7 linked regions of the Homo sapiens genome follow. The protein of the gene in region 1 interacts with the protein of each later gene in a pairwise test. Each region holds a gene or a part of one and is shown in the gene's direction. Other genes may lie near its edges.

The links.
Region 2: the proteins of GPR42 (region 1) and TF interact in binary tests that used the Homo sapiens proteins (3 or more experiments, as listed by UniProt).
Region 3: the proteins of GPR42 (region 1) and KCNA1 interact in binary tests that used the Homo sapiens proteins (3 or more experiments, as listed by UniProt).
Region 4: the proteins of GPR42 (region 1) and SERTM1 interact in binary tests that used the Homo sapiens proteins (3 or more experiments, as listed by UniProt).
Region 5: the proteins of GPR42 (region 1) and BNIP3 interact in binary tests that used the Homo sapiens proteins (3 or more experiments, as listed by UniProt).
Region 6: the proteins of GPR42 (region 1) and LEPROTL1 interact in binary tests that used the Homo sapiens proteins (3 or more experiments, as listed by UniProt).
Region 7: the proteins of GPR42 (region 1) and MS4A1 interact in binary tests that used the Homo sapiens proteins (3 or more experiments, as listed by UniProt).

What each region holds. Positions count from the first base shown.
Region 1 is NC_000019.10:35,369,641-35,374,500, forward strand, and holds GPR42 (G-protein coupled receptor 42), read left to right. Parts: upstream 1-1,427; 5' UTR 1,428-1,478; intron 1,479-1,708; 5' UTR 1,709-1,719; coding exon 1,720-2,760; 3' UTR 2,761-3,322; downstream 3,323-4,860. UniProt on the Homo sapiens protein: G protein-coupled receptor that is activated by short chain fatty acids (SCFAs), such as propionate. Hence may play a role in the regulation of whole-body energy homeostasis and/or in intestinal immunity.
Region 2 is NC_000003.12:133,773,530-133,778,067, forward strand, and holds part of TF (serotransferrin isoform 1 precursor), read left to right. Parts: intron 1-1,903; coding exon 1,904-2,088; intron 2,089-3,519; coding exon 3,520-3,709; intron 3,710-4,538. UniProt on the Homo sapiens protein: Transferrins are iron binding transport proteins which can bind two Fe(3+) ions in association with the binding of an anion, usually bicarbonate.
Region 3 is NC_000012.12:4,914,112-4,919,039, forward strand, and holds the end of KCNA1 (potassium voltage-gated channel subfamily A member 1), read left to right. Parts: 3' UTR 1-4,145; downstream 4,146-4,928. UniProt on the Homo sapiens protein: Voltage-gated potassium channel that mediates transmembrane potassium transport in excitable membranes, primarily in the brain and the central nervous system, but also in the kidney.
Region 4 is NC_000013.11:36,672,278-36,677,479, forward strand, and holds the start of SERTM1 (serine-rich and transmembrane domain-containing protein 1), read left to right. Parts: upstream 1-1,742; 5' UTR 1,743-1,907; intron 1,908-3,067; exon of another isoform or gene 3,068-3,150; intron 3,151-5,202.
Region 5 is NC_000010.11:131,966,711-131,970,118, reverse strand, and holds the end of BNIP3 (BCL2/adenovirus E1B 19 kDa protein-interacting protein 3), read left to right. Parts: exon of another isoform or gene 1-464; coding exon of another isoform or gene 465-492; intron 493-1,549; coding exon 1,550-1,595; 3' UTR 1,596-2,435; downstream 2,436-3,408. UniProt on the Homo sapiens protein: Apoptosis-inducing protein that can overcome BCL2 suppression. May play a role in repartitioning calcium between the two major intracellular calcium stores in association with BCL2.
Region 6 is NC_000008.11:30,100,932-30,105,469, forward strand, and holds part of LEPROTL1 (leptin receptor overlapping transcript-like 1), read left to right. Parts: intron 1-966; coding exon 967-1,042; intron 1,043-3,368; coding exon 3,369-3,555; intron 3,556-4,538. UniProt on the Homo sapiens protein: Negatively regulates growth hormone (GH) receptor cell surface expression in liver. May play a role in liver resistance to GH during periods of reduced nutrient availability.
Region 7 is NC_000011.10:60,468,054-60,471,794, forward strand, and holds the end of MS4A1 (B-lymphocyte antigen CD20), read left to right. Parts: intron 1-196; coding exon 197-415; 3' UTR 416-2,699; downstream 2,700-3,741. UniProt on the Homo sapiens protein: B-lymphocyte-specific membrane protein that plays a role in the regulation of cellular calcium influx necessary for the development, differentiation, and activation of B-lymphocytes.

The sequences.
Region 1 (4,860 bases):
GGGGAAGTCAAATTATCTCTGTTCACTGATGATATGATTCTATACCTAGAAAACCCTACAGATTCCTCCAAAATACTCCTAGACCTGATAAATGACTGGCAGTTTCAGGATGCAAAATCAGTGTATAAAAATCAGTAGCATTACTATATACCAACAATTGTCAAGCTGTGAGCCAAATAAAGAACAGAATCCCAATTACAATAGCCACACACAAAAATAAAATACCTAGGAATACATCTAACCAAGGAAGTGAAAGTGAAAGATCTCTACAAGGAGAACTAAAAAACACAAATAAATGAAAAACATTCCATGTTCATGGATTAGAAGAATCAATATCATTAAAATGTCCATACTGCTCAAAGCAATCTACAGATTCCACCCAATTCCTACCAAATTATCAATGTCATTTTTCATAAAATGGAATCATTCTACCAAAAAGACACCTGCATGTGTATGTTTGTCACAGCACTATTCACAATGGCAAAGTGATGGAATCAACTTAGGTGCCCATCAATGGTGGACTAGATAAAGAAAAAATGGTACATACACATCACGAAATACTATGCAGCTATAAAAAAGAATGAAATCATGTCCTTTGCTGCAACATAAATGCAGCTGGAGGCCTAAGTGAATGATCCTAAGTGAATTAACACAGAAACAGAAAATCAAATGCTGTATGTTCTCACTTTTAAGTGGGAGGTAAACAATGGGTACACGCAAACATTAAAGATGGAAACCATAGACAGTGGGGACTCCAAAGTGGGGGAGGGAGGGCGGAGGACAAGGGTGGGAAAACTGCCTATTGGGTACTATGTTCACAATTTTGGTAATGGGTTCAATAGAAGCCCAAACCTCAGTATTATGCAATATACCCATGTAACAAACCTGCACATGTGCTCCCGAATCTAAAATAAATATTTTCAAAAAGCAATTGACCTATATTATTAACATTTTAATCTACCTGTATATATGTTTTAATCTGCATGTGTTCATGCTTTGAAATATGGTACAGGTACTATGACAATCCCTGTTCTGTAGGGGAGGAAGAAGAGACACATCTCTTCCCCCACATCACAAAGTCAGGAAGGAACAGACCTCACGGAGTCCAGTCTGTCACTGGCTCATGCTTTGTGCCCTTAAAAGGCAAACTGGATAAGTGCCATTCTAGAGAATCAGACAAAATTCAAGTGGAAGAGAGGGGAGGGGAAGAAGACGTCAGCTGGGGCCTGTTTGGAGCATCCCAGCTGAGGCTGCGCAAGGAGGGAGGCACGCAGTTGTGGAATTTGTTCCCCTTTTTGCATACTGACCAGCCCTGGCAACGGAGCTCAAGGCATCTTTGTGCCACTGCTCAACAGTGAGTGATGTCATGGGCACGGCCAGGTCTTTATCAGTTCTGCCGGATAAATAGCCAACTGCACTAGGTCTGGAGAGACAGCAAGGTGCTGTGCGGCAGAGCATTTGGGGTCTCAAAGAAGCAGGTGAGCCTGGGCCCGAGGGGCTGGGTGGAGGAGCACCTTGGTGCTTCTCTGCTGGGGAAGGGACAGGGGACAGGGCATGCTCAGGAAGACAGGCAGGCTGACCCCGCCTGGAAGGCACCCAGAGACAAGAGGGGTGGGCGTAGTGACCTCGTGCCCTTTTAGGGGAGATGCTGCTGGCCAGAGGCCGTTAGGGCCCCCACTACCAACTCCATGTTACTCTCTCTCACCAGTGGCCACCACCATGGATACAGGCCCCGACCAGTCCTACTTCTCCGGCAATCACTGGTTCGTCTTCTCGGTGTACCTTCTCACTTTCCTGGTGGGGCTCCCCCTCAACCTGCTGGCCCTGGTGGTCTTCGTGGGCAAGCTGCGGTGCCGCCCGGTGGCCGTGGACGTGCTCCTGCTCAACCTGACCGCCTCGGACCTGCTCCTGCTGCTGTTCCTGCCTTTCCGCATGGTGGAGGCAGCCAATGGCATGCACTGGCCCCTGCCCTTCATCCTCTGCCCACTCTCTGGATTCATCTTCTTCACCACCATCTATCTCACCGCCCTCTTCCTGGCAGCTGTGAGCATTGAACGCTTCCTGAGTGTGGCCCACCCACTGTGGTACAAGACCCGGCCGAGGCTGGGGCAGGCAGGTCTGGTGAGTGTGGCCTGCTGGCTGTTGGCCTCTGCTCACTGCAGCGTGGTCTACGTCATAGAATTCTCAGGGGACATCTCCCACAGCCAGGGCACCAATGGGACCTGCTACCTGGAGTTCTGGAAGGACCAGCTAGCCATCCTCCTGCCCGTGCGGCTGGAGATGGCTGTGGTCCTCTTTGTGGTCCCGCTGATCATCACCAGCTACTGCTACAGCCGCCTGGTGTGGATCCTCGGCAGAGGGGGCAGCCACCGCCGGCAGAGGAGGGTGGCGGGGCTGGTGGCGGCCACGCTGCTCAACTTCCTTGTCTGCTTTGGGCCCTACAACGTGTCCCATGTCGTGGGCTATATCTGCGGTGAAAGCCCGGTGTGGAGGATCTACGTGACGCTTCTCAGCACCCTGAACTCCTGTGTCGACCCCTTTGTCTACTACTTCTCCTCCTCCGGGTTCCAAGCCGACTTTCATGAGCTGCTGAGGAGGTTGTGTGGGCTCTGGGGCCAGTGGCAGCAGGAGAGCAGCATGGAGCTGAAGGAGCAGAAGGGAGGGGAGGAGCAGAGAGCGGACCGACCAGCTGAAAGAAAGACCAGTGAACACTCACAGGGCTGTGGAACTGGTGGCCAGGTGGCCTGTGCTGAAAACTAGGTCCTCCGGGGGAGGAGGGTGTAGCTGGCGTGTCATCCTCAGGGCGCTTCCTCGCTCACGCCAGGAGGGACTTGGAGTGGCGAGCTGGGGCCCGATGGGGCTTGGGGGCAGAGTAGACATCTAGCCTCCCTAAGGGTATGCGCGCTAAAGCCCAGCTCTCGATCTCACCTCCATCCCCATCCACCCACACACTATGGATTGGGCTCTGGGAAGGGGTCAGGGTGAGAGGCTGCTCTGGAGAACAATGAGGTCCTCATAGCAGCAGGCAGCTCCTGTGTTTTCTTGAGGGTGGCAGAGGAGCTAAGAGCAGTGCCCAGGTCTGAGGGGGCTGCCCAGTGAGTGGCAGGGGCAGGAGAGGGGAGAACCCCATCCTCAGAGCTGCTCCCAGCCAGCGAGTCAGGAGCGGGGGAGACAGGGCTCCAGGGATGAGGCCGCATTCTGCTCCCACAGTGCCTTTTCCAGAAAGTTCCCATTGCTCAATAAATGTGGATCATCAGAGACATTTATGAACAATGACAGAAGAAAAATTACCCAAATAAATGTGGAAGCAAGCAAAAGAGAACAGTGTTTCCTTCTTCTCCTGTTTTGTTCTGGTGGTGTGCTTGGGCCGGGTGGGACTGGTGGATGGAAGGAGAAAACACCAGACTCTGGAGGAAAAGGGCCAAACACCAGGATGCCTGGATGCTGGGAGAGGATCTGGCTTGCAGGGATGAAAATAACAGCTGCCCTGTCTAAAGGACTTGGCCTGACACATCATCTCCTTCTATCTCTCAATAGCCCTGTGAGAGGTACCAGCATTATCCCCAGTTTCAGATGAAGGAGTGGCCCAGAGAGGTGACATCTCCTACCCGAGATCCCATAGCTGGTGGGCGATTGAAGTGGGACCAGAAGCTGGTGTCAGTTGACTCTGACACCCATGCCCCTAAGCCACTCTGCTGTTCTCCATCTGTGTGTCACCTGTGGTCACCTGGCCCAGTCAGATGAGGCTGTCTGAGCAGGACAAATGCAAACAGGCTGTGATAAGGAACAGAAGTAAATGCAAAGCACAGTGAGTATCTGTGTGAGTGCATCCTCTCCCCAGTAAAGAAGACTTCTTGAAAAGTATAGATTACGATACTTGGAGTCAATGATTGGGCAGGTGACTCACAGTGGGCACCCGATGCTCCTCGATCTTAGCTAATGCAGGATCTCTTCAACTTTTTACATCCTTGTCCCCTTCAGAAGCCTCTTTGGATATACATCTTTCCTACACAGCACATTCCTCTGCCTGCTTATGCAATTTCAGTGCAACCAACACACTGTCGGTTTATGTGTTGTGGCCCTTTACAAAGACAGAAACTGGCTGGGCGCAGTGGCTCATGCCTATAATCCCAGCACTTTGGGATGCCGAGGCAAGAGAATCACTTGAGGTCAGGAGTTTGAGACCAGCCTGGCCAACATGGTGAAACTTTGTCTCTACTAAAAGTACAAATATTAGCCGCATATGGCAGCATGCACCTGTAAACCCAGCTTCTTGGGAGGCTGAGGCAGGACAATCACTTGAGGCCAGGAGGCAGAGGTTGCAGTGAGCCGAGATTACACCACTGCACTCCAGCCTGGGTGACAGAGTGAGACTCTGTCTCAAAAAACAGAAGGAAGGAAGGAAGGAAGGAAGGAAGGAAGGAAGGAAGGAAGGAAGGAAGGAAGGAAGGAAGGAAAAGAAAGAAGGAAGGAAAGAGAGAAAGAAAGAAAGAGAGAAAGAAGGAAAGAAAGAGAGAGAGAGAAAGAAAGAAAGAAGGAAGGAAAGAAAGAAAGAGAGAAAGAAAGAGAGAAAGAAGGAAAGAGAGAGAGAGAGAAAGAAAGAAGGAAGGAAAGAAAGAAAGAAGGAAAGAGAGAGAAAGAAAGAAAGAGAGAAAGAAGGAAAGAAAGAGAGAGAAAGAAAGAAAGAAAGAAAAGAAGGAAAAGAAAGCCACAAACCATTGTGAGATTTTTTGTTGTTGTTGTTCCCCAAGAACTAGTTTTCACCTATTTGGGATCAACATTGCTGCTGCTGAGAATGTCTGAGCTGCAGAAATGGTCCCATCTAATATACTGATAGAGCCTGTCTCACAGAACTGTAGC
Region 2 (4,538 bases), on another chromosome or scaffold:
AGGTGTGTGTAGGAAAAAGAATGTTAGAAATGTACCAATTTTGAAGGCGTAGACTATGAAATTACAAATGCTTCAAAATTTTCTTCCCAATACTTACGTGGCATTTTATAAATTTCCACCAATAAACGTGTATTATTTTTATTGAAAAAGCATATTTTTAACATGCCCTTCTAGATGCCCTCCTAGCCAGACTGAATCACCTCCCATTTGATTTTTCTTAATTTTCTACCTTTAGGTTCTGGCTCATTCATTAACATCAATTTCCATTCATAAGTCCTCACAAACCCACTTTTCCTCTTGCCTGAGTGCCTCACATACCCTACTGCCTGAGATGGTTCCAGAGGCGGTCTCCTCTCTCCCTTAGAAACACCAGGCACACACCTGCCCCCAGTCTCGCCTGCACTCTCCTTTCCTCCCGCAGAGAGGCATTCCTTTCTCCTCCTCTCATCCTACACACACTATAAGAGACAACTGAAATCTTGCCTCCTCCAGCCAGCTTCTTAATTCATTTGTTCTCAAAGCCCTGGTTTGAGCTCACACAGCATCTAGAGTGTTTTACAAAATATAAAATATTATTATCCCTGCCCTGAATTTTTTGTTTTGGTATGTGTGTTATTTTCCCCTCCAATAAGATTGTGCCTTGGAGAGGGCTGAGAACATAGTATCATAGATAAATGAATAAAATAACATAAAATAAAATAAAAATACATATACCCTTTGAACTAACTATTCCACTTCTATGTAAGCACAATTATATGCCAGTAACACTCATTTTAACGCTACTTTAGTGGCAAAAAATTGTAAACACCTCAGATGCCTATTAAAAGAGGAATGGTTTAAAGATACTATTATAGCCACACTATGAAATATAATACAGTAGTTAAGAAGAACGAGCTTGATTTGTATGTACTGACAAGAAGAATCTATAAGGTATGTAAACAGTTGAAAAAAAAGCTACAGAGTTTTACATTTGTCAAGATCTAACACTAAACAAAATTAGAAACATGTGAAATCCATATACACACGTAGAAAAATACATATAATGAGCCGTGGATGGAAACTCGCAAATGTGATATTAAAGACTAGCACTATAAGACTGAGTGAGATTTGGAGAGTATAGGAAAGGAGGCTTTTAGTTAATATAGAGAGATATTCAAAAATTTATGAGTGTGATCTCATGTATTAGTTATTCGGTTAAAGAAACAAAATTAAATGAAAAATACATTTTTAAAAAGGTTGCAATTCTGAATTATGGGAGAGAAATAAAAATTAGCAAAACATATTTGCAAAGTGGCTCAGGAGGAAGGAGCTGAAACCCTAAGAATGGGTGAGTTTTTTTTTTTTTTCAGAGACAATACAGAAAAGAAGAGGCAAAGGGGCCGAGATGGGATACAGACCTGTATCACACAGGTGTGTGCACATTCTCATTTAGAACTGGAACAAGGGAGTCAGATTTAAAATTCTGGTGCAGATTCCAAAGGTGTTCTCTGAGGAAAAGTTCTTTTGTTTGGAGATGCCATGTGTTACAGCACAGAAATTGATCAACCTGGCTTAGAGCGTCACATTCTTCCTCTGTTGGAGCAAGAGGTACAGAAGGAATTGGAATTTAGTGGAATTGAAGATCTTTTTGAACAGCATCTGCAGAATGTAGTTCATTCTCACCTGGCTGGGTAGGGAAGGTTGGAAGGGGATGGTCAATAATCATTCCTGGTCACTGTGAGTCTGGCATCACCTTGTAGACCACATGGGTGTCTCTTCCTGTCCACATCACTGTAACCCCAGTGTGGGCACTTCTGCTGGCGAGAAGGCCCAGGTTCTCTACACACCACTGAGTCAGTTCCATCTCCCCAGCGGGGCACCTTGACCAAAGCCATCAGCTGAACCACCTTCTTCCTGTCCCTAGGAAAAAACCCTGATCCATGGGCTAAGAATCTGAATGAAAAAGACTATGAGTTGCTGTGCCTTGATGGTACCAGGAAACCTGTGGAGGAGTATGCGAACTGCCACCTGGCCAGAGCCCCGAATCACGCTGTGGTCACACGGAAAGATAAGGAAGCTTGCGTCCACAAGATATTACGTCAACAGCAGGTATGGACCAGCCAGGTCCTCCCACCTTTTCTTCCTAGATGGCCATAGGCTATTCGGGGGGAGTTTACAACAAAGTGCAGCCATGACTCCAGCACTTTCTTTTTGAAAACTAGAATTCCATGCATTGTGCATTTCATGCCATGCATTGTGGACTAGAGTATCAGGGTTCAAATCACAGCTCCACAGCTTCCTAGTTGTGCCATCTTGGGTATGTTACATAACCTCTCTATGCCTCAGCTTCCTCATATATAAAATTGTAATAATAATATTTTTACCTACTTCTCAGTTAACATGAGTATTAAGTGAAGACATGCACCCAAACGGCATAGGAAAATTCCATTTCCTATAGGACGTGCTCAAAATATGTTAGCTGTGTAATTATGGAACTAGACCTCTCAGGCCCAGCTCTGCTTCTAGCTCCTGGTCACTGGTGATTAGATCTGATCCATGTACTCTTGGGACTAGGAATCTGCCTTTCTGCTCCCCCTAACCTTGTTCAGGGGTACCCTCATTTCCCCTACTCCTGTCCTTCCCGAAAATGAAGAAGACAGCTCCTGTTTCCCAGCGCTTGTTGATACGAGTCATGAAGAGTGGATTTCTGTTCCTCTTGCCTAGGCAGACTGAGCACTGTTCTCAACAGTCTGAAAAACACAGGACCCTTGCCCTCGGAGAGCCTGCCCTCTGGGGGAACAACCACTCAGGGCCAGCCTTGTTGAAGACAGGGGCTGCCTGAGTATTCTAATCCTAAAGGCCCCTCCACACACACACATCACCTTCCTTTTGGGCATAGCTGCCTGCTGTTGATTCACCATTACCTTTTTTTAAAAAAAATAAGAGTATATTTGAAGTCCTTTTAAGGTACATGACAATAATAAGCATTTAACATACATTTCCTAGCTGCTATATGGAAAGTTCAACATTTTGCAGTCATCATTTCACTTACAACCTTTGGAGATCTGGAGAAGCTGAGTGGCTTGCCCAAGAAAGGATTCAAAATGCAGTCAAACATGAACTTTTAAGAACTACCTCTGCCACTCCTCTGGGAGGGTTCACATTTAACATCTTCTTTGACAATAACATCTGAAGGGACATGTTATTGTCCTCTCATTTCCTATAAGCAGCCCCCAGTGAAGGGCAATGAAGTGGGGAAGAGAGGTCAGAGTAGGCAGGCATGGGTGTGGGTGGGAGGGACTTATCAGAGGAAGGTGGGACCAGGGACCCTATAGATGATTTTGGGGGCATCATGAAAGCATGCAGCTGGGGCCCTAAGTGGATAAATGGCAGATAAAGGAGGTGGAAAATTCCCAAGACATACTCCGTAGCTTCCCTTTTTCCCCAGGGCTGGTTCAGAGCTTTCAGACTCTTCTCATCCATGTGTTCCCAGCTGCTAAAGACCACAAGGTCCTCACGGACTTTCTGTTCACTTGACAGCACCTATTTGGAAGCAACGTAACTGACTGCTCGGGCAACTTTTGTTTGTTCCGGTCGGAAACCAAGGACCTTCTGTTCAGAGATGACACAGTATGTTTGGCCAAACTTCATGACAGAAACACATATGAAAAATACTTAGGAGAAGAATATGTCAAGGCTGTTGGTAACCTGAGAAAATGCTCCACCTCATGTGAGTAGGAGGAACAGCATGGGGAAGTGGCAACCAAACATGGTGGTGAGTGCTGGGATGGTGGGTGGGTACAGGAGGGGTAGGCTGTGGCCCTTGGGATAGGACAACATGGACAAAATGAAATGGTGAGTGAACAATCTAAGCCCGGCATGTATGACAGGCTAGACTGTAGGGGCAGATAGTAAGGGGATACAGGCTCAGAGCACTAAGGTAGTGAACTTATTGGGTATAGAGAATTCCATCTTATTTCTAAGAAAAGGACTGGGTTTATGTGTACATGCCATTGCTCTGCAGTAAACTTTTGATTAGAGTTGCCTTGTCCAATATGGTAGCCACCAGCAAGATGTGACTATTTAAATTTAAGTTAATTAAAATTAAACTAAATAAAAGATGTATTTCTTCAATCCCACCTAGCTGCATTTCAAGTGCTCAACAGCCACATGTGGCTCCATATTGGTCAGCAAAGAGAATGTTTGCATCATCACAGAAAGCTCTTTCAGACAGTGCTGCTCTAGACAGCTTCAACAATGATAGGTTCTGGTAACCATAAAGTTGCTATGCATACTACTCATTTGGAACACCAGTTTCTGAGAACTGAAATAGAATAAAACACATCTTTGCAGTATAACTATGTTGGGTGTAACTGAGTCACCTGAAAAAGTTTGGAAGCTGGGGAATAACATGTGGTGTAGGGCAGTTAGTCTTTCCACAGGAGTATGCAGATAAGGGAGTCTTGATCCTTATTAAAATGCTGATTCTCAGAGCCTTGAGATACTGATTTAGAAAGTCTGTGCTAGGTCAGGTATCCGCATTTGAAAAGCTGCCCCCA
Region 3 (4,928 bases), on another chromosome or scaffold:
GGCACTCAGTCAATTTTCCTGCCTTTGCTCAGGGAAATACCAGGTTTTTGTGCAGGTATAGGCGGAGAGAGGACCAATATGCCCATCCCTTAAAGGGAAGCCATGTGAAAAACTCAATAAGTCATCAAAGTACATATAGCAACACCTAAGAACAAGTATTCTTTCTAGCTGAAGACAAACACAAGCAACACAAACAAGCAAACAAACAAACAAACAAAAAGGTGCAATACTGCATGTTTTTTGGTGCATTCTTAGGATGTAAATGAAAATGTTTCTCTATTATATGCATCCGAAGCAGAGCTGATTTTTTTTTCTTTGCAGTCATTCTTTGAAGTCTGTAGAGACTTCAGCCCTCCCCTTGAGGCTCCCTGAAGAAACTAAACCAATTGATTTAATAGTTGCTTAGTGCCTTTATCCTGTACCCACAGTGAACTGTAGAAAGTGCCTCCTTAACACAGCTGAGAAGTTAGGTAGCAAAAGTGGGGAAGGGTTGGGGCACAGACCTTTTGCTTTTTCTTTTTCCATTCTCGCTCTCTCATTTCACCACTGTGAGAAGACCACACCACCCTAAACCCTGGAGAGGAGAGACCCAGGAGGGTGCTGTCTCTCTGGCCATCTACTAGCATTGGTCCCTTTGACAGCCTGACGCTGGATGTGAACTGAGACCCATCTTTGAACTGGACATGAACTGTGAACTTGTTTTTTCCTCTCTCCACCAAAGCCAAGATAAACTTTTTGGGAATTTGTTTCCTATCGAGGGCCACTTTGGACACACAAGGCTTCCTCAGGTCCAGTGTAGTGCTCCTGGCACCTTTCCTTATTTTTTTCTCTGTCGGTAACAGCACTTTGCAAATCTCTCTGACGGTCCAGTCTTTTCAGGCATTGTTGTGGATGTGGGAACACTCAGTTCATAATAACCTTTCCTAGGCCTTCCCTCCTGGTCTACCCCTTTCAGATATTTCCTGATGCCCCTATGATCTTCCCACCTGGCAGTCACTTCACAGGTTGAACATCTAACTTCTGCTGCCCCCCCGTTACCCAGCCCAGAGAATGGTGGGGACCCTGTTCCTGGCTGAAAGAGAGCCACGGAACACAGGCCTCTGGAGCTCGGCAGCTGCCCACCGGTGGAGAGGTACTCACAGCCTTTCAAAGGACCCTGAGGTGGGGAATCTTCATTCTGCACTTAGCATGTGGCTGCCTGTTACCTGACATTCTGGCCCAGCTTCTTCTGAAAATCTGTCCTGCTTCTCCCACCCCTTTCCCCCATCCTGTCCTAGAACTAGCAGTGAGGCAATCACCCTAGAAACTCGAGTTACACCCATTCTGGCTAACTCGATTAAAAGAAAGAACATGGATATCTTATTTTCCTATGTGACTTTTGTGAATCTGTGAGATGAACACAACACACATCGTGGAAGATGAGGGGCCAAGAACTGCGCAGCATCCGACTACAGGGCATTAAACCCTCCCATGTGATGTCTCCTTCTCGTCTGAACCTTAACTCATTCTGGCGATTCCTTTCCTACTTGCTTAAAAATCCCCAATTAGGAAAAAAATGCCAACCTCCTCCCAGGCTTGGGGTTATCTTGATCTTTCATTTCAACGTTGAGGTCTAGTGCACACAGAACTTGAAACACCGCACTCTGTCAACAGCAATAATCCACTCAGTACTGTGGGATGGATGGGTTAATGGATGAGAAAACGGCACCAAGACTGACTTTGGGTATTTGGTATATTTACCGTGGTTACACTCTGGACTGGTTGATTCTTCTGCATGTGATATAGAAAAAAGTGCTGCATGCGGTGAACCTGTCAGTCTGGGACTGGGGGTGAGTTGTTGTTATGAGTTTGGGGTGGTGTGAGGAAAGTGAATGCTGCTTAGCTCATCTGTAGCTCATTGCAATGAATTCAGTAAGAATGGAGTACAGGGATTATCTGTGTAGCATAGGCATGCAATGTTTGACCAAGCTCTTACCCTCGCACTGTAATGTGTTGAAATGTCTTTGTAGACCTGAAGGTGCACTTAACAAAACTGCCTATTAAGGGATGACTATTTTTTGGTTTACTTATTCATATTTATTTTAGCAGCCTTTTTACCTTTTCTTCCCCTTCCTAGGCATGGAGCTGTAACAGCTCATGTCCTGACTATGTGTTTTCTCCAGAAGGAGAAGACTTCTGATGTGCTGATAGCTATAATTCCTCTCTTCCAGTCTATTGGGGCCCTAGTTCAATAGGGTGGCAATAGAAGAGTTGGTCACACCAGGGCTGTTAGCCATCCCAGAATCTCTGAAGTGGTTAACTCACCTGAAGTGATCTGAATCAGAGAGACCAAAGACATTCATTTCCTCTGTCCTCAGATTTCTAGAAGACAAATTCTAGCCAGGAAAACTTTCTGTTTTTGCATCTCCCTTTTCCCATTTGTGCCCAACTCCCCTTGCACTCCCTGGAGACTTGAGTTCTGATTTTCAGTTATATCAGCTCATTGGGAGTGTGTTCGTGGGTGAGCCTTGCAGAATCAGATAAACCAATAGCAAGTCCTTCTCCAGGATTCTGGCCAGTGGGCAGTCATTTCCCTGAAATGAATTGTAGGGCAGGTTTAGATTCCACTATGGTGGACGTGAAGCACAGGTGGTGTCACAATCTTGATTTGCTTGAGAATTAAAAAAATACATGTAAATGGTAAATGAGGAATACATTTTTTTAAAGTAGAAATTTGGTTTAGCCTATAAAAGGCCTTCTTCACATTGTGTATAGTTACACGTTTTTCAAATTAGGTACCATCTAAAAGTCAATAAAAATAGTTTCCTAGCCCTCTCATTTAATATAGGAGACCTCAAAACACATGCTTTTTAACAATTTTACATTTTAATTCTTAGTTTGGTAGATTGGATTGAAAGAAAGGAGAAAGAACATTAGCAGAAGGCACTTTCCCATTTTCTTCCAGGAATGACTTATTCCTGGGGTGGTGAGAATTGGTGGGTGGTAACCATCCATAGTATAAAATTGTTAGAAAGAATATAAACTGCCAAACAAGCATGTTATCTTCAGGCTTTTCCAAGCAAGAATGAAGTCTTTTGATGTTTATGTTCATTTTAAGAAGACAAACAAACTAAAATTTTAAGACCAGACACAACCCAAGTTGAATTGTGATCTCAGGAGGTGAACTCTCATTCACCATGTGGCATATTACTACCTGTATTTATATCATGGAATTTCAGGGTATATGTGAACATGTCTAGTATGACTCAGGTAAACCTTTAAAGAATGTATGTTACTTACCATTTTTGTAAAGAAGCAAACAGGAGCTGAATTGTTAACCAAAACTGTTCCATTACCTTGGGTCACTGTGCAAACTAATTCAGGGTACAGATATAAAGTTTAGAAGCCTTGGGATTAAATGCCAGCCTCTTTGCTCAGGCAAAATGACCCTGGGCTTTCTTGGGAAGTCCAGCATGTATGTAAGGGGTGAGGCCCTGCTGACCTCAGGGCTTTTCGCTTTAAGGAGATTAACCCTAGTCACAGTGATTTTCATTTAGGAGCTAACTAGGAGTTTACTCTTTATGACGTGAAACTTCAAAGAGTATAGAAAACTTTTGTACCACAATCAAAGAAGAAGAAATGGTGTATGGAAAGAAAACAAAACAAAACAAGAAATCTCTTGTAAAATATTCCAGGTCAAAGTTGTCTCCTCTCCAAACCTTGCAGAAGCACCTTTCTTCTCTTCAGCGCACTGTTTTGGGACTGTTTATGCAGCAGATGTAAGTAGACAACATGGACTCCATGTGACATGCCTCTAATAGTAAAGATAAAGTATTACTGAGGTTAAAAATAAAAATTGAGTAGTATTAATTTAAAGTGCACCATCAGGACAACAAACCATTTAAGCTGAAAAAACGCTATTTTATTTCTTGAGTTTGCCAGTTGCTTCCACCTTGAGTTAAGGACGTGTCTCATCTTCACCTACTGCGCATTCTCCCTTCTCTAACTGTGTAATATGTCAGGTCAAGGACATTGAATGTTATGAATTGAGAACCTAATTGATGCGCATAGTTTTCATCTATGCAATTTTACTTGCTTCTGTCACTTTACGATCTGTTCATATTTGGCATCAATTAAAGATACTTTTTAAGGATCTTATCAAGGAATATCTTGACTGGTTATTTGTCTCTTGTTTAACTGGTCTTTTGGGGGCCCTTTTCTTCCCTTCTTCTGTGGGGTCTCTTTAAATAGTGGGGTGAATCCAAGATCAGATCATGAAACAGACTTGTTTCCTTTGGCCCACGTGGTCTGTTTCTGCTGTCCAAGGACATATCCGGGGGTTACCTTTTGAGGATAAATTCAGTTTGGTCTCAGGTAAGATCCCAAGTGAAGACCACTGGAATTTGGCCTGTGGAAGTTAGAGTGGAAGGAGGATCAAGCTTTCAAAATAAAACAAGAAATGAGGCTCAGGGGAACAAAGTAATTGGTTATATCCACTTAAGTTGTTTTGATTTGAAACTAGTTTTTATGCACAGTCTGAGAAGCTTTGCAGGAAGAATAATTGTGGGTGTGTGTGTGAGAGAGAGAGAGGGAGACAGAGACAGAGACACGACTGTGTGTGTGAGTGTAACAGAGTTGTGGTCTGGAATCAACTGACTTGATAGTTGCAGTGTGGTGTTAGGAGTGATTTTGATGTGGAAAAACAACGTGGCTCCTATCCATTCTTTACACAGGCTTTTTCCATGTAGTTCTACATGTTCACATTTCTTTCTTTCTGTTTTTTTTTTTATGACTCCTTGTTGCATTTCCTTTTGATTCTTCCTGAGATTTAGATCTTCTGTTTTCCTCCTTGTGAATATCACATTTTCTACACATTCTTTTATGTCAGAGCAAACAGGGGGAGGTGCTCTTGACAGCGGTCTGTTACATGCTAAATGCACTGGGTGGTT
Region 4 (5,202 bases), on another chromosome or scaffold:
GAAAAGATTCACACCCACCCACAATTGCCCTGGAGAAGGAAGGGGAGAGACAAAACAAACAAACAAACATGTAGAGTATGAATGAACCAGACAATAGGGTTGGGGCCTAGGAATCTTATGCACAAAGAAATTTTGAGGACCACTGTTTTGAAGGTCAACAGTTCTAACTGCCCCCCCATACACCTTAGTGTTTCAAAAAGTGAGTTGTGAGAACAACCAGTGATATTCAGAATGATTTTAGCATGGAAGACTTATGCCTTCATTTCATTGTGCATTAAAATATTAAATACAACTGGTATCTCACAAACCAATAATTTCATAGATATTATTGCTTACGATGAAGCCAAGTAAAAATCTAAGGTAAAATTTACTAAGTGCATAATGGAGCAGACTGTAGATGGATGTAAGGTAACTCATGAGAATGGCACATGAACAGGTGAAATTCAGGAAGCCAATCCAAGTGTGCCCGGAGGGAAGTGGTTCTCTGAATCTGCCCTCTTGACAACACAGCTCATTCCATCCTCCTGCATTTTACATCAGGCACAGAAGGATCCACATAAGAGAGATTCACACCCACCCACAATTGCCCTAGAGAAGGAAGGGGAGAGACAGAGAGCCTTTACTTATGTACCACGGAGCTTCAGAGTTAAGCCAGGTGCCCCTGCCTATCTCTACGTGGAGAACAATTGAACATGGGTGGAAGTAGCAGGCTCCTAGGAGCCGGGCCCTGGTGGGTGGCAGTATACGTGCATGTGTTGGTGGTCACTGAGACTTGGGTGGCCTGATTCTGTATTGTGCATGATTTGCTTTTCTGGCCACTAATAGGTCTCACGGTGAAGACAGCAGAACCAGATGGAGTAGGGGCTCAAGGAACAGGTAGCCACACCAACACTTCCCAGGAGTTCAGCCCTTTACAGGCCACAGAGCAACAATATTGTTGAATGTCAGAGTGAAACAGACCGCAGCCACCAAGTGATCGAAGTCTCTCATTTTCCAGCTGAAAAACAGGAATACAGAGAGAGAGTCTTCTGGTCAAGGTAGCAGCACTGACTGGTAACTGAAGTTGGTCGGATCAGTTAAAGCCTCCTTTTCCGGAGTTCTGTTACGATATATGACTCTCTACGCCAGTTCCCTAGTAGGGACTCATGACTGACTGTCTCCCTGGCAATGACAGAAACTCCAATCCTATTCGACTCATTTAATGATTTGGTATAGGATTCAGAGGCGCACGCGGCGAAGGCTGAGCAAGGGCTGTCTGTGGTTAAGCTCATCACAGGATGAGGCCATGCCCCACGCAACTCAGTCAGAGCTGGGCTTGCGATGATGCACCCAGAGTAGTTGTTTTGGGTGGGGGCTGCGAGGAACTCATAAAAGATGTAAGAGGAGGAGAAAGTTGGCAAGAAGTGGATGCTTTCATCTGCAGAGAAAGGCCCCTGAGCCCTAAAAAAACTGCCCTCCTCCCCACTCCCCCCTCCTCCCCCCGACACACAAAAAAGTTCACCCACTACACCTGCCTTCCCCAGATGGGCTCCCTGCGCAACGCCTCCTCGTCCTCCGAGATTTTCCAATGGTGGCGCAAGCTCCTCCCTCGCCCGAGCTGGGCGCCGTCCTAGAGCCAAGCGCCCGCTAGAGCCGAGACTAGGGGGCGGTGAGGAGTGGGACCCGCTCGCGGCCATTGGTTGTGCGGCCAGGAGGGGCGGAGGGACGACGCGCGGGCTGTGCGGGGCCGGCAGCCCGGATCCACTCCCGCTGCGCCTGCTGTCCGCCGTGCGCCCAGACTGCGCGCCGCGCCGCTGCGCCCAACATTCCCGAGGACGGCTTCGCGGGCGCGTATCGTCCAGACCGGAGCACCGCCCCACCGCTAGCGCAGGAGACCTGCCGGGGAAGTCGCGTGTCCTGACCTGCAGGTCAGTGAGGGAAACTTGCAGGGTCCCGAGCTCTGGGGGTGAACTTGCCCTACGCGGAGAGCGCCCCACTCCTTGCCTGGGGCGGCCTCGGGTCCTGGAGGCGAGCCGCCTCCCAGACTCTCCCCCGAGATCTGGGCTCCCGGAGATGTGGCTCCTTTCTGAGAAACACCCCCAAATCTATCCCTTTTGAGGTGTCCTTACTGTCCCGAGAAGCAATCGCAGCCCGGCTCTCCGAGTCTTGGGGTGACTCCACGGGCTGCAGGAGGAGCCGCGAGGGGCCCTGAGTGCAATGTCCTTGGCCCCGTGTTGACCTGCCTCGGTCCCAGACACTGGGAACCGGGAAGGTCTACCCTCGCTCTGCAAGGTGGATTCCTCCATGCAAGTGTAGACAGTTCTACACTTTGCAGAGTGTGTCTAGGTGCCTTCTGTTTGCTTTTGCCTTTGTGGTGTGTGGAGGGTCATTCTTGGGTTTGTTTTGCTCCTGTCTGATTTTCTAGGGTCATTTGCGTCCCTTCTCGGGAACGGGGACTCGCCATGCGCACACTGACAGCTGGCTTTGCACCTGCTAAGGCGCTGGAGAGTCTTTTCGCCCGTCTTAGGGTGGCCCTAAATCCGGGGAAGTTTTATGTGGCGCTGAACACTTGCGTTTCCCAGGGGCGTTTTCCCTAGCTCCCGGAAACCCAGTAGGTAACTGCGCCAGCGACCCTTCCCCTCTTCCCGGGTCTGATGAGACACTGGAATCCTGCCTTTCCCTGTCGAGGTGTGCGAATGATGGGCAAATTGCTTCAGTTCTGATTTAGGAAAGGGATATGTAATGTGCCCTCCTCCAGGGAGCAGAGGGATTCATTCACAGAAATATCTTGTTGAGGACCAGGATTGGGGCTATGCCTGCCCGCTTTCCTCCACCAGATGCCCGGGCTCCATCGGACTTGGGTTTGATCTCAGACTCTAGAGATGGGGTCTGTTTGTTAGTGTCCTTCATTTCCTCTCCCTGTTAATTTTTCTTCGGAAAATGTTCTGCTAAAGTAAGTACTTCAGTGTTCTTTGTGGTAAATGATGGGCTCCGATGTCTAGAGGACGTCTCAAAGCCATCGCATTTGGTACCGTCTGCACTACAGGTGCAAAGGGCGGGGAAACTGACAGCGTTACTGTCCTGGGGCGGACCCGCGGGACTACTCCCTAAGACGTTTCTCCTAGGTGCCTTCTCCTAGGTGCTTCCAGGATTCATTGTTCAGACAACAGCCTGTCAACAGGAAAAGAGGCACAAGTGACAGTCTTTTCTTAAAGGGTTTGTCTCTTAATGCAGTCTTGCGGAGCCCCATGCACCCTCTGAAAAAAACAATATTTAATTTGCTGAATTATACAACTAGTCTGGGTGTCTCAGCTTATTTGTGATCATGCCCATAGAGGTTCTTAAATATCTTTTTTGTAACTAAATTCTCTTCATTTTACTAAGTAGAGTAGTGTCTTTTCCCCCGCCACCACCACACTCAGAACACCGTTTTTAGTTGATCTGTAAAGCAAATTGCCTTTTGGAGGGCTTGTGAGTGAGGCTGCCTGGTCTCAGAGCCTCCCTCAGCCCATGCCCTAGTCACCTTTAAATGCTGGACATCGTAGGGCCGCCGAAGCCTCTGCCAACCTCAGAAGTAATCTGGAAATATTGAGATCCAGCACGTGGGTGGGATATTCCATTTTTGTGTTTTGGCTTTGAGGGGCTTATTATTTTTGATTCCTCTATATAAGGCAAAGTGCTTTGAAGAGCTGAACGCACACATTTATTGTTCTCATTAAAGAAACCTGTTGTAAGGTAAGATTGAGTCCATTCTCCCTTGCTGTTAGTTCGTTCAGTTCAACAGATTTTACTAGATGTCTACGATTTGGACAAGCACATCAGGGGTTAAGATATAAATAACTGTGTGATTGCATGTGGCATCAAATCCACGAGAGAGTTTATTTGCAGGTTTCCTGGGTTTCTTTTTCTTTTTTCTTGTTCTTTTTTAGTGAGGGCAGATGAAGAATGACAGAGCTGATTTGTAAGAATGACCAACCATACTAACCTTTAAGCAAACTTGGAGTTATACGTTCATTATAAAAAAGAAAGACTAACTCATCACAGGCAAAATTCTGATTCAGCCTCTATACTAGATAAAGTCTGAGCTCATTTGATGATCGTTCTTCTCTGGCTTACTCTTCTCCCTATACTTATATTACAACATTTTTGGGGGGTCCTTTTTTTGTTTAAAGTTTGTACAGTTTGTACGAGCATTTTTATACTTAATTAGTTATAATGAAGAAGTGAAAAATAAAATTATGGCTGAATTTTTGTGTTTTGTTCATCTGAGTTTTTAAAGTAGTAATTTAAGAATCTGAAAAAATACATTTCTGAATGGCCCTGGATGCCAGGCACTGTGTAGGTCCCACTTGCCTGGCTCATGGTACCCATAAGCCATTCAGTAAATATTTGTTAAATGAAACTAAAAGCCAAAAAGTAGTGCCACAGAAGAATGTTGTTTTCTTCAAATATCTACTTGTGGAGGCTATTATATTATATTAGTATATTAATACAAAGTATTATAGACCTAATTTTTATAGATTTCATGATTGTTTATAATGAGAGCTAAAAATAATAATAATAAAGGCTTTAAATTAGTTAATGGAATAGGGAAGCCAACAAGGAAGAAGTTCAAGCTTTAAGCCCACGAGTTGGCAGGATTCCTTTTAGCCAACATGTGTGCCTAGAGGATTCAAGCCAGAGGCTTAGATGAAGATGCCCTTGGTATGCATATGTGGCCCAACCTTTGATTTAGAATTCAGGAAGTCCATCTGTGCATTCACGGGCCATTTCAGGAGCCGGGCAACAGTCTACTGGGCCAAATTCTGTGGTCCCTTCTGTTCTGATTCTGATTTGTGGCAGATGTATCCCTAGGATACAACGTCTTCATGCTCAGTCTCATGACATAAAATGCGTCCTTCACGAGTTCCTTATGGATATAGGAAATAGTCATTATTTAGCCTTTACTAACTTTGGAAATTTTTTTGGAAAAAGAAAAAAAAGATAAAAGATGTCTGAGCCGTCAAACAGCCGTACACACTTTAACATATCTCTAAGCATGAAGTAGCGTAATCCAGCCAAAACAGTGCCAATGACAAACCTCCACATTTCCATCAGAAATGGGGTACATCACTAATATTTTCTGAGTTCCTAACTTTTAAATTCCCAACTATTAAGCTATATTAAGACAGGAAATTAGTCAGTCTAGGTCTACAATTTGTACTTTGATTCTTGATGTTGATA
Region 5 (3,408 bases), on another chromosome or scaffold:
CAGCCTCTGCCTCCTGGGTTCAAGCGACTCTCCTGCCTCAGCCTCCTGGGTAGCTGGGATTACAGGTGCCCACCACCAGGCCTGGCTAATTTTTGTATTTTTAATAGAGACGGGGCTTCGCCACGTTGCCCAGGCTGATCTCGAACTCAAGGGATGGCTCACCTCGGCCTCCAAAGTGCTGGGATTACAGGCGTGAGCCACCGCGCCTGGCCTTTCCTGGCTGCTTATACTCACTCACCCTGCAGAAAACACAGAGACCAGGCAGGCGCCGCTGTGGGTTCTGAAGAGCGTTCGCCGCAGCGGTGGTGAAGAGCCAGAGCGGGAAGCCAAAACGGCTCCTCCTCGGGCTGGTCCCAGCCTCTCAGCGGGGAGGAGGGCTCTAGTCCTGGCGTGCAGACAGTGTTCTGTGGCTGCCGTGTGTTGGACAGACTGGAAAGACCGGAATGCCACTGGGGGCAGGTGGGTTAGGTAGGTTGGCCAGAGGGCTCACATCTGGGGTTGAAGGAAACGGGATAAAAGCCACTGAGTTTCCTGGGCCGGGACCTGAGCGCTGCCCGTGTCTCCACCTCGCCCTCCCGTGTGCGTGGCTTTCTCCTAGCTCTTGGGCACATTCTCACGTCCCCCCCATAACCCGTCACCTTCATTTCTGCTGGTGCTTTTGGGAGTCAGACCTACAGACTGCATCAGCATCACCAGGCAGTTTGCTTTCTGGAGCCTTTTCCAGAACTGTCAAGCAGACTCTGGGGGCAAGGCCTCGGGATCCTCATTTTAAATACAAGGTTTAAGCCCTTCGTTTCAGGATGGATTTCTGCAGCCACTACTTCCCAGCTACTGTCCTTCGTCCTGCCCGGGTTTTCAGAGCCTGATGCTGCCACTGGCGACCCACACCCCCTCAGCTGCTTTTCAGAACCACACGATAAAATCTGCCCCGAAAGCTGCTGCAGCACTGTCTGCGCTCACAGTGCCCACCACACCACCGCCCACAGGCCAGGCCAGCCAGGCTTCCGATTCTGCCCTTTCCTGGAGACCCATCCTCCTCCCTCCGGGAGTGATGCCCGCTGGTCAGCTGGAGCGAGCCTCTCTATTGCCGAAAAGCCTTTTCTGACACTCCTGCATCTTTAGTTTGGGACATCTCTCCCACTACCAAACTTAAACCACATGAGGGCAGGGGCTTCATTTTTAAGCAGTTGGCTTTGGTGAGGCTGGTGGTGATGAACTAGCAACACCATCTTGCCCTGGTAGGTGACTTCCCCCAGCACTGAGTTGGAACAAAGCAGAAGCTTTCTGTGTGGAAACAGCATTCGGTTTGGTGATCCTTCTATGTAAGAATACGATCTGATGTTTTCTAAGTTAATTAATACAAAATACATATTGATAAAACACTAGATAAAAGATCACAGATAGATTCATTACAAAATTTTTATAATGGGTATAAAATCACCAGTCCCCTTGCATAAGCTCTAACCACAGTGAGCTACCCTGTTTCAGCTGTAACACAGTCTCCTGTGAATCACAAGATACATTAACTACTGATAATTTTTCTGTGAAGGATCTATATTGGAAGGCGTCTGACAACCTCCACCAGCACCTTTTGATGAAGAACTGGAGTCTGACTTGGTTCGTTAGTGGATTACTTCTGAGCTTGCAACATAGCTCACTGAAGAGCTGTTAGATCCTGGGGTGGCCACGTCACTTGTGTTTATTTGTTCTGTAAATGCTGCGTTCCTAATTTAGTAAAATAAAAGAATAGACACTAAAATCATGTTGATCTATAATTACACCTATGGGATCAATAAGCATGTCAGACTGATTAATGTCTACTGTGAAAATTTGGTAGTAAATTTTCATTTGATATTAGATATAAATATCTGAATATAAATAATTTTAATATACTAGTCATGATGTGTGTTGTATTTTAAAAATTATCTGCAACCTTAATTCAGCTGAAGTACTTTATATTTCAAAAGAATGAATAACATTGATAATAAAATCGCTACTTTAAGGGGTTTGTCCAAAATAAATATTGTGGCCTTATATATCACACTATTGTAGAAAGTATTATTTAATTTAAATGGATGCAGGTTGTCTACTAAAGAAAGATTATATATAACTATGCTAATTGTTCATAATCAACAGAAACCAAGATAGAGCTACAAACTCAGCTGTACAGTTCGTACACTAAACTCTTCTTGCTTTTGCATTATAAGGAATTAAGTCTCCGATTATTAGGTGATCACCCTGGATGATCAGTTTTCTGCTGAAGGCACCTACTCAGTATCTTTTCCTCTTTATCACTCTGCATTGGTGAATTTAATCCTCTCCTTTGTGTTCAACTTTTGTGTGCTTTTAAAATCAGCTTTATTCTAAGCAAATCTGTGTCTACTTTAAAAAACTGGAAATGGAAAAAAAAATAAATCTTTGCCAAATCCTTCAGATTACTGTATTTACATATGGTTTAAAATCAGACGTCATGATAGCTTCTTAATGAAACCAGGACTGGTCCCTATTTTGACATTATCTTTCCTACAGCAAACTTTTTAGAAAGGCTGCCTGCCGCCTTGATGTTTCACCTTTCCACGCTTAATTCGGGTGTTAAATCTAACGTTTTCATTTGTAAAAATCTTTGTTGATGCTACCTTGGAAGCAGTCATCTCTCAGTCTTACATTTGGAGAATGTGGATGGCATGACATCAGAATTCCTTTATATAATTTAACTTCAGAATAGTCTGAGATCATCGAAGCACGATGGTCAAGGGAATTCCGTTTTTGTTTTAGAGCAAATATGTTTGCTGTTTGTCTTTCATCACAAACATCAGTGGAGTTTCAGCACCTTACAGAGCTCAGTGAACCCCCTGGTCACCATCAAAGTTAGCACACAACAAAGCCAACCACGTGTCCCCCTCACAGATGACAATGGCTGAACTCTGAGTGAAACCACCTGTATGGCCGGGCACAGTGGCTCACGCCTGTAATCCCAGCACTTTGGGAGGTTGAGGTGGGTGGATCACCTGAAGTCAGAAGATTGGCCTGGCCAACATGATGAAACCCCGTCTCTAATAAAAATGCAAAAATTAGCTGGGCGCAGTGGCACGTGCCTGTAATCCCAGCTACTTGGGAGGCTGAGGCAGGAGAACCGCTGGAACCCAGAAGGCAGAGGTTGCAGTGAGTGGAGATCATGCCACTGCACTCCAGCCTGGGAGGGAGAACGAGACTCCATCTCAAAAAAAAAAAAAAAAACAACCAGTTGGAGGTACTAAGCTCTGGGACTGGGCCAGTGTGATGGCTCCACACCTGTAATCTCAACACTTTGGGAGGCTGAGGTAGGAGGATCACAAGTCCAGAAGTTCGAGACCAGCCTGGGGGAGCATAGCAAGACCCTGTCTCTACACAAAATACAAAAATTAGCCT
Region 6 (4,538 bases), on another chromosome or scaffold:
ATAACATGTTAAAGTAGTGATACCTCAGAAGGATTATAACCCATTGTCCTACAGATTTTCTAATGTAGATTAGGGAAGGAAACCCAGCTCTACTTTTGCAAACTATTTAAAGATTTGCAACAAAATTAATTGATTAAAATCATTAACTACAGATATTCTCGGGCATTTTTTCTGGTCAGTTTTATGCACATTGAGAGTGTATGTGCCAGAAACAGGAGCTGATTAGAAGAGGTTTTCCTATAGGATGAGGTTTCTAAAGTCCAGTAAACTTGAGCATGTGGAGTTTCTCCACATACTGCTTTTCAAAACTGTAGTGATCTGTGAAGTAAATATAATTCTAATGCCCAGAAGAGCATTGAGCCTGTGGACTTTGACTCTTTAGAAAGGGAACCAGCGTCTGGGGAATATGGTGGGGTACTAGCAGTAGGTTAGAGCTTTAAAAATCGGTGTCACTGGCTGGATGTGGTGGCTCACGCCTGTAATCCCAGCACTTTGGGAGGCCAAGGCAGGTGGATCACCTGAGGTCGGGAGTTCGAGACCAGCCTGACCAACATGGAGAAACTCCATCTCTACTGAAAATAGAAAATTAACAGGATGTGGTAGTGCATTCCTGTAATCCCAGCTTACTCAGGAGGCTGAGGCAGGAGAATCACTTGAACCTGGGAGGTGGAGGTTGTGGTGAGCCGAGATCAAGCCATTGGACTCCAGCCTGGGCAACAAGAGTGAAACTCCATCTCACAAAAAAAAAAAAAAAAAAAAAAAAGGCCAGTGTCACTTCATTTTGCCTTGAAGATACCACAGAAGACTTATTCTAAGACTAGATAACTTACACTTCTGATGGCAACTTGCTATTAATACGTTTTAGGGATTTTTGCTTCTGAGGTTACAGATAATGTTCAGACTGCTGATATTAATAAAAATAATATTTAATTTATATTCCTGTTGCACTTTTTATTTGCTTTGCAGCTTTGATTAGTTTGTCCTTTGGAGGAGCAATCGGACTGATGTTTTTGATGCTTGGATGTGCCCTTCCAATATACAAGTATGTAAAATGTTTGTCTTTCTGAATATTTAAGGGTAAAATTTTTCTACTTTTAAAGCTTAAAAAAATGTTTTTTTACTACTGTAAAAGTAATGCAGAGAAATGTTCACTTACCAAACACATACCTTTGTAAAAATCACCACTTAAAGTTTGTTTCTAAAGATTTTAGGACACCAAGATGCAAATAATATTTTTGGCTGTTACCTGCTCTTTCACTACTGCTGAGTCTGCAGTGGCAAGATAGCTACACAGTACCTCAGCCCTCCTGCTCAGTTTTTAACATCTATTGATAATACTAATTACAAGAAAATTTAAAATGTCTTTTTGCAAAAAAATACCATAAGCAGTCAAAACACAATTAAAAAAAAAGAGAGAGATGTAAACAATTACTTTCCGGCCGGGTGCGGTGGCTCACACCTGTAATCCCAGCATTTTGGGAGACCAAGGCGGGAGGATTGCCTGAGGTCAGGAGTTCAAGACCAGCCTGGCTAACATGGTGAAACCCCATCTCTACTAAAAATACAAAAAAATAGCCAGGCGTGGTGACACATGCCTGTAGTCCCAGGTACTCGGGAGGCTGAGGCAGGAGAATCGCCTGAACCCAGGAGATGGAGGTTGCGGTGAGCCAAGATCACGCCACTGCACTCCAGCCTGGGTGATAGAGCAAGACTCTGTTTCCAAAAAAAAAAAAAAAATTTCTTTCCTTAGGATAGAAAGAACTTCTCAAAGTTAACATTTTAACATTTAGATAAATTAGAAAAAGATGGACAACTCAATAGAAAAATAAATACAAAAAGAGAACTACAAATTGCTAATAAGCACATAAAAATATCCCCAGCCTCACTCAAAACTAAACAAAATCTATTGACAAAGACAAGAGACAGGGCAAGCAGGGACTCTTTTGTGCTGTGGGGGGAGTACACATAGATAGTTTTCTTGGAGATAAGTTTGCTTGTAGCTCTCAAAGTATATATTCTTTGAGTTAGCCCTTTCACTTGTTAGACTTTCTGATACAAACCCACTTGCAGATGTTTACAAAGATATATTTAGTGGGGGAGAGTATGGATGTTCAAGCAGCCTTGTTTATTTTTTGGTTTTTGTTTTTGTTTTGTTGTTTTATGCGTTATTTATAAGAGCCAAAAAAAATTCTGAAAACATCCTAAATGTCCTTCAAAAGAAAAATGGTTAAATTATAGTAAATCTTTTAATGGAAATACTAGGCAGTCTTAAAAAGAATGAGGAAGAGCTGTAAGTGCTAACATGTAAATATGTTCAAGACATATTGTTAGAAAACTGCAGGGACCCATTCATATTTTAAAGTTTATGTGGAAATGTGGAAGGGTCCCTGAGAAGCTCAATAGGAAAGTGGGCAAGAGGAGATTTGGAACTTTTAGTCTTTACTTTTTGTGCTTTTGTACTGTTTGAATTATTTTTCTTAAGCATATATTCAATTTTTAATTTTTTTTCTTAAAATATTTAGGAAATGGTCAGGCGCAGTGGCTCATGCCTGTAATCCTAGCACTTTGGGAGGCCAAGGTGGGTGGATCACCTGAGGTCAGGAGTTTAAGACCAGCTTAGCCAACATGGTGAAACTCCATCTCCACTAAAAATACAAAAATTAGCCGGGCATGGTGGTGCACGCCTGTAATCCCAGCTAGTCACGGGGGCTGAGGCAGGAGAGTCACTTGAACCCAGGAGGCAGAAGTTGCAGTGAGCCGAGATCATGCCACTGCACTCCAGCCTGGGCAGCAGAGCGAGACTCTGTCTCAAAAAAAAAAAAAAAAAATTTAGGAAACATAAGTAGCTGCTTATCATTAGCCTCTGTACAATCAGATCTCCACCATGATACCTATTTTATTCTATGGTAGTTTTAAGGGCATCTATTTCTTTTTAACTTTTTATTTTGAAACAATTTTAGATTCTGAAGAAGTTGTGAAAATCATACACAGAGGTCCCCTGTACCCTCCACACAGCCTGCCAGAGTCATAAGATCTTACATAACCATAGTTATCAAAACCAGGAAATGACTGTGGTACAATACAGTTAACTAGATGTAGAGTAAAAGCCATCTATTTTTATTGTGATAAATTCTATATTCTGACTGAAAGTGTTCTTACTTTTAGCTTCTTTTCTGTATTTTGATTTCTGTAATTTGGGAGTTCCTCGTGTTGTAAGGGAAGTTTAGGGTTGTTTCAGCTTTATGCTAAGGTTGGGTATCATCCATTAGAAGTCAAGCGATTGAATCTTGATTTTTTAAAAAGACCATATTTTGTGTGTAGGAAAATGACATAGCAAAAATTACATTAACTTATTTTTCTTTTTCTAGCAAATACTGGCCCCTCTTTGTTCTATTTTTTTACATCCTTTCACCTATTCCATACTGCATAGCAAGAAGATTAGTGGATGATACAGATGCTATGAGTAACGCTTGTAAGGAACTTGCCATCTTTCTTACAACGGGCATTGTCGTGTCAGCTTTTGGACTCCCTATTGTATTTGCCAGAGCACATCTGGTAAGTGAATATATTCTTCCATTAATGATTTTATATTGAACATGTGTTACATTTTTCTCAAGCAAAGTTTTTGTTAATGACATGAAAAGAGGTGAAAGACATAAGAGCCTAGAAGATAGAGATTAAAATCTCACTTTATTGTTTGTTCTTGTTAACTAATAAAAGTGATATTGGAGAACGTGGCTTGGATCTGCAGCAGCTGTTGGCTTGCTAATACTTTTTTTTTTCTTTTTTTTTTTTTTTTGAGATGGAGTCTTGCTCTGTCGCCCAGCCTGGAGTGCAGTGGCGTGATCTCACCTCACTGCAAGCTCTGCCTCCCGGGTTCACGCCATTCTCCTGCCTCAGCCTCCCGAGTAGCTGGGACTACAGGTGCCCGCCACCACGCCCAGCTGATATTTTTTGTGTTTTTAGTGGAGACGAGGTTTCACCGTGTTAGCCAGAATGGTCTCGACCTCCTGACCTCGTGATCCGTCCGCCTCGGCCTCCCAAAGTGCTGGGATTACAGGCATGAGCCACCGCACCCGTCTGGCTTGCTAATACTTAACTGTCAGAGTTGAGCATATCAACTCCCCCAGTGCTGAACAACCCAGGCCTATCCTGTAAAACCTAAAATATGGAAGACCTGAGAAGGTGCATGTGCTCTGCAGGCAGAAAAGCACTGAAGAGGGGAAGGGGCTGGCTACGGGTACTCAGTTCTTCCTCCCAAACTCACTGATCCACGCGCCTTCATCTCTGGGGAGGTAGAGAAGACAGCCATATGGAGAAGGCAATTGTTTTCCCACCCCTTCAAAAGAATGTACATGGGTGTGTTTCCATCTGTGATATGCTAAAATTTAATCTACTCTAGATAGATTTTTATATTAAGGAAGAGTAAGCACATTCCTTTATAAACAGAAACTTGTAGAATTTTATGCTGCTTCTTCATAGCCCAGAAGTCAAGCTTGTTTTTGAATGGTCATTTCATGACTTTCTTTTTAAAGGAA
Region 7 (3,741 bases), on another chromosome or scaffold:
TATTCAGACTTGAGTTTTAATAAATGACTTGATAAGGATATAAGCACCTGCAAAAAAATTTTGGCATTTAAAGGCATATAATAAATGACATAAGTAGCATAAAAACCAGGAGGTATTTGATAAATGTTTGTGGAGATTGTTGACAAAGGTGTCAGTGGTAAAAGTAAAGAATGGTTTGTTTAATTTTCTGTTTTAGAACATAGTTCTCCTGTCAGCAGAAGAAAAAAAAGAACAGACTATTGAAATAAAAGAAGAAGTGGTTGGGCTAACTGAAACATCTTCCCAACCAAAGAATGAAGAAGACATTGAAATTATTCCAATCCAAGAAGAGGAAGAAGAAGAAACAGAGACGAACTTTCCAGAACCTCCCCAAGATCAGGAATCCTCACCAATAGAAAATGACAGCTCTCCTTAAGTGATTTCTTCTGTTTTCTGTTTCCTTTTTTAAACATTAGTGTTCATAGCTTCCAAGAGACATGCTGACTTTCATTTCTTGAGGTACTCTGCACATACGCACCACATCTCTATCTGGCCTTTGCATGGAGTGACCATAGCTCCTTCTCTCTTACATTGAATGTAGAGAATGTAGCCATTGTAGCAGCTTGTGTTGTCACGCTTCTTCTTTTGAGCAACTTTCTTACACTGAAGAAAGGCAGAATGAGTGCTTCAGAATGTGATTTCCTACTAACCTGTTCCTTGGATAGGCTTTTTAGTATAGTATTTTTTTTTGTCATTTTCTCCATCAACAACCAGGGAGACTGCACCTGATGGAAAAGATATATGACTGCTTCATGACATTCCTAAACTATCTTTTTTTTATTCCACATCTACGTTTTTGGTGGAGTCCCTTTTGCATCATTGTTTTAAGGATGATAAAAAAAAATAACAACTAGGGACAATACAGAACCCATTCCATTTATCTTTCTACAGGGCTGACATTGTGGCACATTCTTAGAGTTACCACACCCCATGAGGGAAGCTCTAAATAGCCAACACCCATCTGTTTTTTGTAAAAACAGCATAGCTTATACATGGACATGTCTCTGCCTTAACTTTTCCTAACTCCCACTCTAGGCTATTGTTTGCATGTCTACCTACTTTTAGCCATTATGCGAGAAAAGAAAAAAATGACCATAGAAAATGCCACCATGAGGTGCCCAAATTTCAAATAATAATTAACATTTAGTTATATTTATAATTTCCAGATGACAAAGTATTTCATCAAATAACTTCATTTGATGTTCCATGATCAAGAAAGAATCCCTATCTCTATTTTACAAGTAATTCAAAGAGGCCAAATAACTTGTAAACAAGAAAAGGTAACTTGTCAACAGTCATAACTAGTAATTATGAGAGCCTTGTTTCATAACCAGGTCTTCTTACTCAAATCCTGTGATGTTTGAAATAACCAAATTGTCTCTCCAATGTCTGCATAAACTGTGAGAGCCAAGTCAACAGCTTTTATCAAGAATTTACTCTCTGACCAGCAATAAACAAGCACTGAGAGACACAGAGAGCCAGATTCAGATTTTACCCATGGGGATAAAAAGACTCAGACTTTCACCACATTTGGAAAACTACTTGCATCATAAATATATAATAACTGGTAGTTTATATGAAGCAGACACTAAGTGCTATAGACACTCTCAGAATATCATACTTGGAAACAATGTAATTAAAATGCCGAATCTGAGTCAACAGCTGCCCTACTTTTCAATTCAGATATACTAGTACCTTACCTAGAAATAATGTTAACCTAGGGTGAAGTCACTATAATCTGTAGTCTATTATTTGGGCATTTGCTACATGATGAGTGCTGCCAGATTGTGGCAGGTAAAGAGACAATGTAATTTGCACTCCCTATGATATTTCTACATTTTTAGCGACCACTAGTGGAAGACATTCCCCAAAATTAGAAAAAAAGGAGATAGAAGATTTCTGTCTATGTAAAGTTCTCAAAATTTGTTCTAAATTAATAAAACTATCTTTGTGTTCTTTTCTGCAACAGATGATTCCAACATGGGTGTTTGTCTATTCTTCTTTACTCTTGAAACATTAGACCATGGGAGGCTCTTACAGCCTTGAGTTGATATTTATACAACCCAAATCTAGGTTTGAACGGTGAGGTGTCAGGTCATCAAATATTCATGTCTATATAGTCTTACACAGGTTCTCAAAAAAAATGTTCATGGGATAGGTCATTGATAATGGATTCCTTATTCTGAGAACTCCAGACGACTGAAATATATGAGAGAAGGAAAAGGACATAGTAGGAGCAGGCCTGAGAAAAAAATGAAAGTCAGAAATCTTTAAAAAAATACAAGATCTTATTTCTATCTTATTTTTTCTCCTCTTCTGAAATATATATGAGGATTCCTCTCCAAACCCATGGTTTCTCTAAGAATTTTGAGTCATTTGTATGACCTCAAATAATTAGTTTTAGCTGACCTCACATAACTCCTTATAATAGGAGACATCTTTAATGTCTGCTATTAAAGAAGGATGAAAATTCCTATGACCTTCTCCCCGATTATCCCTTTGGCAATATAGAGTCAAATAATAACATTGACCAATAGTAAACATGCTTTGCCAAGAAGTAGAAGATATATTCTCTAGCCTTAGTTTTTCCTCCCAATTTGCATTTTTGTAAAAATAATGTTGTATCCACAAAGGAAATAAACTTTAAAAACCCAAGTGCACTCATTGACTAGGAGGCTGACGTAACTTATTTTCATTTTCTTCTGGTTTTCTTATAATCTTTGTTTAAAATAAGGTGATAAACCATCCCAGTTTGTCTGAGTCTGAGGGATTTCCTGGGATACACGATTTTCAATGTTAAAACCAAGATAGTCCCAGGCAAACAGGATAGTTGATTATCCTACTTCATAGTAATAGATTACTCACTTACAATCACTGCATAATATTTACTTTTTACATGTAACAGTATATCATAGATTTTTCCTTATTGATACATAATTTCATAAGCATCACTTAATTTCAACTTAGGATTTTATGAATCAATATAAATTTACCATTCCTCTATTATTGGATATGTAGGGTATTTCCTTTTCTTTCTTTATACAAATCACTTTTGGAGCACAGAAATCATGAGCAAGATACATGTTTCCTCTTATTATTCAAAATGTAGCTTTACATTTAAAGTCTTGTCAACATTGACCAGTAGGAATTACTAGCACCTGTTAAAACCCAGAAAATTTACCTTTAATTTCACATCAACAAGAGAATAGTCAAAGATCCAATACACAGAAATAGTTACTTCAGATTCATTTAGCTTGAGTTCATTTAAGAAATCTGATTTGTTTTAAATTCTTGGTGTATAACATAAAACACTGATGGAGGGGTTCAAATCTGAAATTTTCCTAGGTTAAGTCTTCAATCCTTTAGTGAGCTTCCTTTTATGGAAAACTTGGTTGTGTGTTCTGAGCTAAAAAGTACCAAGTCATAAATGAATATGATAGAATCATGTGGTGGCAAAATCAAAGCAAAGTTACAATTATCCTCTATTGACCCCAGCCTACTCAGCAGTGCAAAATGCTGAGAAAGAATAAATAAGTTGTCTACCCTTAGAACTTACTACCTGGCTGGAGAAAGAGAAATTAGTTCATCAGGTACCTGTTATGGGTAAAGCATTTTGTTAAGTATGGTGGGGTACAGATAAAGATAGGAGAAGCTCCCTGATCTCAAAAATCTTACTGCCTAATTGAGAATGATATAAGCATA